Linked DNA regions of Homo sapiens: region 1 is linked to region 2. The links come from fine-mapping of genetic effects on gene expression. A gene starts in region 2. The other region holds a variant in brackets. All regions are shown on one strand. Distances are from middle to middle.

Region 1 (2,913 bases), 130 kb after region 2:
CATTACATTCATAGGGTTTTTCCCCTGTGTGAGTTCTCTGATGCACAATAAGTTTTGACTTCACTGAGAAAGACTTCCCACATTCATTACATTCACAGGGCCTTTCTCCAGTATGAGTTCTCTGATGATAAGTGAAGTCTGGCTTTTGTGAGAATGTTTTCCCACATTCGTTACATTAATAGGGTCTTACACCTATGTGTATCCTTTGATGTACTATGAGGAATGAATTGTAAACAAAGGTTTTTCCACATTCTTTACCCTCATGGGATTTCTCCCCTGTGTGAGTTCTCTGATGTACTTGGAGATATGACTTCTCACAGAATTTTTTCCCACATTCACTACACTCATTGGGTTTATCACCTGTGTGTGTTCTCTGATGTACTGATGTACTGTAAGGACTGACTTATATCTAAAGGCTTCCCTTCAGATATAAGTCACATAACCTAATGACACTTTGCATTTGTATGTATCGAATGTGCATGACACATTCAATACATTCTTAGGGTTTTTGCCCTGTGTGTATCTGCCAATGAACTGTAAGGCCTGACCTATTTGTGAAGGTTTTCTCACATTCAGTACATTCATAAAGTTTCTCCCCTGTGTATATCCTATTATGTACTATGATAGATGAACTGTGGCTGAGAGCTTTCCCACACTCATTACATTCATAGAACTTTCCTCCTACGTGTGTTTGCTGATGTTTAGGGAGAACTGACATATGCCAAAAAGAACTCCCATAATGACTATTTTGAAAGGTTTTCTTTTCTGCGTATGTATGCTGTTGAGAGAGACTTGGTTTCTTAAAGATTTCCCTACCTTCATTACATTCAAAGCTTGTTTTTCCTTTTTGAGTTCTTTCAGTGTCAATAAAGAGTGACTTTTGCCAAAATTATTCTCACACTCATAGTATTTTTTCCCCATGATTCCTCCATGGTGTTTATTTAGAGATTTCTCACCAACAGACCTCCTCCCACAGCAATTAAACTCGTAGTGATTTTCCCTTCTGTGAGTACTCTGATGAACAAGGAGGTTTGGATTGTCAGAAAAGGCTCTTAGTTGTTCATTATATTCACAAGGTTTCTCCCAGAAGCACACTCTCTTATGGGTACTGAAGGCTGCCTCCTCATGAAAAGCTTTCCCACACTCAAGGTATTCAAAAATTTGCTTCAGAGTTTGAATATCCTGATGCTGAAATAAGTCCTCATTCTAACAGATGGCTTTCTCATTTCTGTCACACTCAAAATGTTTCTCTCTGGCATAAGGATGCTCATGTCATATGAAGGAGCAATTTCGCATGTGCACTGAGCTCATCAAGCTTCCTTCCAAAGGAGTTTCTATTACTAACAATTAATTCTGAAATATAATTCACGTTCATTATACATAAGTCATATTTATCAGGTATTTTTCTCATTGGAACAAGGTTTGAATTTATATTAAATGTTTCTCCTAAAACACTATTTCTGTCTTCCATCAGTATTTTGTTGTTGACAAAACCAGCTTTCCTCAAATGCTGGTCTTGGTTTTCCTGGTTCTTCTCCATCAGGTCAACTTTCCAGAATTCTAGAAATGAGAATAGTTTACCATATCTTATAAATATTAACACATTTCATGTGGAAAGGGGATGTAACATGCAAATGCTCTAGGATAGCCCAGGCATCTGGTCTGAAAGTAATCCTGAAGGCATACATCTCACTCCCTTAGGATTAGACAAAACAAACTGAATATGAAAAAAGGAGAGGAATCTGCAAATAAAAACACAGTAATCTGGCACTTTAGAAATGTGACCTTCAAAACTGGATAAAGTGGAATAAACAAATACA[G/A]CAAATGGTATTTTAGGATGAATGGTAGAGGCATGAAGGGGAATCATCGAAAGCATTGAATAGTAGGTAAAATTGCCAGAAAAAAAATCAGGTGATAGTGTTTGAGGGGTGACGGCAAAGAAAAAATTAAGTTTGGAGGAGGCAAATGTAGGTTTTTATCTCCTGCTGTAAAATACTCACTAATACATATGTTTCCAATGCATCACTAATTCTTTTCTTTGTTTTTATTTTTTTTATTTTTTGTTTTTTGAGACAGAATCTAGCTCTTTGCCCAGGCTGGATTGCAATGGCACAATCTTGGCTCATTGCAACCTCCACCTCCCAGGTTCAAGTGATTCTCCTGCCTCATCCTCTCAAGTAGCTGGGATTACAGGCACCCGCCACCGTGCCTGGCTGATTTTTGTATTTTTAGTAGAGACAGGGTTTCGCCATCTTTGCCAGGCTGGTCTCGAACTCCTGACCTCAGGTAAACCTACCACCTCAGCCTCTCAAAGTGCAGAGATTACAGGCATGAGCCACCGCACCCTAAGGTCCTAGCAGGTGTTGCTCTATCTCTGATTTCTTTTAAATTATCTGAATGAGTAGTAAATCAGTGGACACATACTAGCAAGTGGTATTTGTATTTTTAGTAGAGATGGGATTTCACCATATTGGCCAGGCTGGTCTCAAACTCCTGATTTCAAGTGATCTGCCCACTTCAGCCTTCCAAAGTGCTGGGATTACAGGCATGAGCCACTTTGCCTGGCTCTTCTTTTCTCTTCCACTCATCAACACCAAATTACAATTTCAGACAGCAATAATTTTCCATGTGCAAAAGAAAACTCCTATTGCCCAGACAGTAATTCTTACTCTAGCTGATTCACACCAAAAGCCAATGTCCAGAGAAAGCATACATGTAGGCTATGGAAACAAGATCAGGTATGTAGTTTTATTCTGCTGTTGTATCTTCATTTTCTTTTACCACAGTTGTCATTAATGAACCTGTCATAGCCATCAAATCATAAAATTTCCCTATTTATCAATTTATTTCATAAACAGTCTTGTACCTCACACAACTCTTTTTGTATATATAAAGTCATCCTTTACTTTTCAT
Region 2 (2,913 bases):
CCACACCCTCCCTTTTGTTGAGTATTTGCCTTAAGATGCAGGTGGTGGGTGAGGATGTGCCCCATTTTGCAGCTGGGCAGTCTGTCTATGGAGGCTGGGGTCACATCAACCCCAATCCTAACAGCTTTCTCCCCTGCTTTGGGCCCTTCAATGTGTCCACTTTCCTGAGACGCCTTAAGGGAATTTATGCAGATCTATAAAAGTGACGATGGTCCCCCCTCACAGCCACCTTTTCCCACCAATGCTTTGTCATGTACCTTCACGGCAGGATCTGAAACTTGTCCTAGTGTCCACAGCCGGTCTTGACCTTAACAGAACCTATGTACCCTTGTGTGAAGCAGAGGCCGCAGCCTTAGGACTCTGAGCCTTGGCCTTTGCTGTGTGCCGCCCTCCACCCCTTTCTCAGACTTGGGAGGAGTGAGGAGAGGAGCCACCTGGGGCAGTTCAGGAATGGGGAGCTTCAGGACAGTTTGCACCACACACTCTGGGACTTAGCTGTGCAACACCCCGACCCCCATGTGAGGAAGGTGGTGTTTGTTTGCTCCACCAGACTGTCAGCTCCTCCCTAGGAGCACGGAGTGTGTCTTGCTCACATTCGTATCCCCAGTGTCAGCACTTAAAATGGATTCAACGGATAAATGTTGAATGAAATTCAGAAATGATGTGCAATAGTAAAAGCTAACATTTAGGAATCAACTTATTACTTACAGACACCTTTGCATATTGAGTGAAATTAAGTTGTTTGATTTAACAAATCTGTGGCTTTGGGGTAGAGAACAAGAACATAGCAAGAGGAAGCATTCTTTATTAGTCCTTCACGAAAGAGGATGGACAGACACATCTACGGAGAGGGGCTCCAGAGGCAGGGACCCAGAGATACACCCGGCCAGGCAGAACAGCTCCAGGATGTGGCCCCGATCCTGGAAAAGTGCGTTTAAAAGAGGCTTAAGGCATATCAGACAGCCTGGCCAACATGGTAAAACCTTCATCTCTACTAAAAATACAAAAAAATTAGCCAGGCATGGTGGCACAGACCTGTAGTCCCAGCTACTTGGGAGGCTGGGGCAGGAGAATCACTTGAGCCCAGAAGGCGGAGGTTGCAGTGAGGCGACACCGTGCCACTGCACTCAAGCCTGGGAGACAGAGTGAAGGAAAAAAAAAAACAGGCATTATTAGAGAGGCTTTATCTCCTACGTGTTCAAAAGCAACCATGCTCCTCCCAGTATCTCAGGACGACTGGACTGCCTGTGTTCCTGTTGCTCTTCACAGAAGCTCCATGAAAGCGGGCTTCGCTTTTGTTCATGCAGCCAGAGGCTCAACACATGACCTCGAAGCCGCCAAGGCTTTATCAAACGGATTTCTCCCAAAAACTTCGTTTCCTTCCGCGACGCCCTGCAAGAACCCTGTATTCCTGAGTCCCTGGCTCAGCGTCTGCTACCCCGATGCTGTCAATCAGATCCTGCTAATCTGAGCGGCCGTGGCTCCGTCCCGGCTCCGCGTCCGCTGACAGGTCACCGCTGTGAGTCTCCGGATTACCAGTCCAAACGGGACGGCTTGAGGTCCCCGCGCCCTAGGGACCTGCGGGGCCCGAGCGCAGGGCGCGCCAGAGAACTACATTTCCCACAGAGCTCTTGGGAAGCCGGGGCCGCCGAGACCCACGGCCCGGCGGGCGGGCTCGCGGGGAGACTCCTGGGAGTTGTAGTCCATTCCGCCGGCGCCGGCGCTGGCGCTGCTGCGGGCTCGGCGCCGGCCTTTGTCTGCGGGCACGCGCCGCTGCGGTGAGTGAGGCCGCTGGCCGGGTCAGAGCGCCGGGGCAAGGCGGGGCTGCGCCATCAGACCGCTGTCCCGGGCCCTCCGTGTGGCCGCCTTATGCCAGCGGCCGCCAAGGAAATGAGCAGGCCTGGCCGGCCCGGGCCCCGAGGGAGGCCAGCCGCGAGCGGAGAGGTCGGCGGTCCGCAGAGCAGGGTCCCGTGGACCGGAGAGCGGGATGCCGAGGTTCAGGACGCAGGGCGGGCCCGGTGCCCGGGGCCCGGGGCCTGAGGCGGGAGGGCAGCGTCTGCGGAGAGGAGCAGGGCCCATGGCGTCGGGGCGTGGGAGGGGGAGGCCGCGGCAGGCTCACCCGGCCTCCGTGCGGGCTTCAGCGAGTGCGGGAAGCCGGTGCCGGCCTTCCGGGGTGGGAGGAGAGGCAGCCCCTGCGGGGGAGAGTAGGAAGCCAGGCAGCGTGTGGGAAACCACGCTACCCACAAGCTCCTAAACCTGAAACTGGCCCCAGGACATTTTCCAGACCGCCAAGTGTACCCCTCTTCTCATCCGCCCTCCAGAGGACGCCGGATTTTAGATCTTAAGTCTGGTGGTCTCGTCTGATACTCCTCTTGTTTGGTTCTTTCCTTCTCATTGTCCTACCTGATAGGACAGTGTTAGTAACCTGTTTAATAAGTGGGGAAGCAGAGTCAGGGCTGCTGGGTTACTCGCCCAAGATCATATCCTGGGGGAGCCACGGCAAGAAGCCAAGACTCACGGACTACTTCTAAGCTTTTTCCAAAGGATATAGTAGCCTTTCTAATAGGAAAATCAATGTTTTTAATTATAAAGCCACTTTTACAAAATCTTGGGGAAACTGCTTCCTCAGACCTGTGATCTAGGGAGAAAAATATGACAATTTCTCCCTTACTAATCACGGAGGTCCCTGATAGGCGGCGGAGTTGTAACTTGAAGACCTCACAGCAGGTGGAGAGGCAGAGCTGTGAATTCTACTCTAATTTCTGGAATCCCCGGCGACAGAGTCCAACCCCAGGCAGCAGGCGCCATGTACCCCAGGGACTTTTAATGTGTGTGCAGCTGTTGAGCAAGAATACCTTGAACTTCCAAATGATGTGCTGGCATGCTGGTAGGGAATTCCTTTGCAGCTTGTGT

The links. PIP is the estimated chance that this variant, and not a neighbour inherited with it, causes the effect. A credible set is the group of variants that fine-mapping cannot tell apart.
Region 1: its variant is the best candidate, but not a certain one, in a credible set for the expression of ZNF32 in whole blood (INTERVAL, PIP 0.69).

What each region holds. Positions count from the first base shown.
Region 1 is chr10:43,521,889-43,524,801 of GRCh38, reverse strand. It overlaps a transcript of ZNF487 not described here and the pseudogene LOC100130881. Among named protein-coding and RNA genes, the nearest start is that of ZNF239, 51 kb to the left of the region's middle. The variant G/A (reference allele first, on the strand shown) is at 1,821.
Region 2 is chr10:43,647,667-43,650,579 of GRCh38, reverse strand. It overlaps ZNF32 (zinc finger protein 32), which reads left to right and starts at 1,699. Exons shown (of 3, transcript NM_006973.3): 1 at 1,699-1,778. The region is part of intron 1 of ZNF32-AS3 (ZNF32 antisense RNA 3); the gene reads right to left. It overlaps ZNF32-AS2 (ZNF32 antisense RNA 2), which reads right to left. Exons shown (of 3, transcript NR_047558.1): 3 at 2,561-2,913. RefSeq lists a silencer at 1,674-2,193.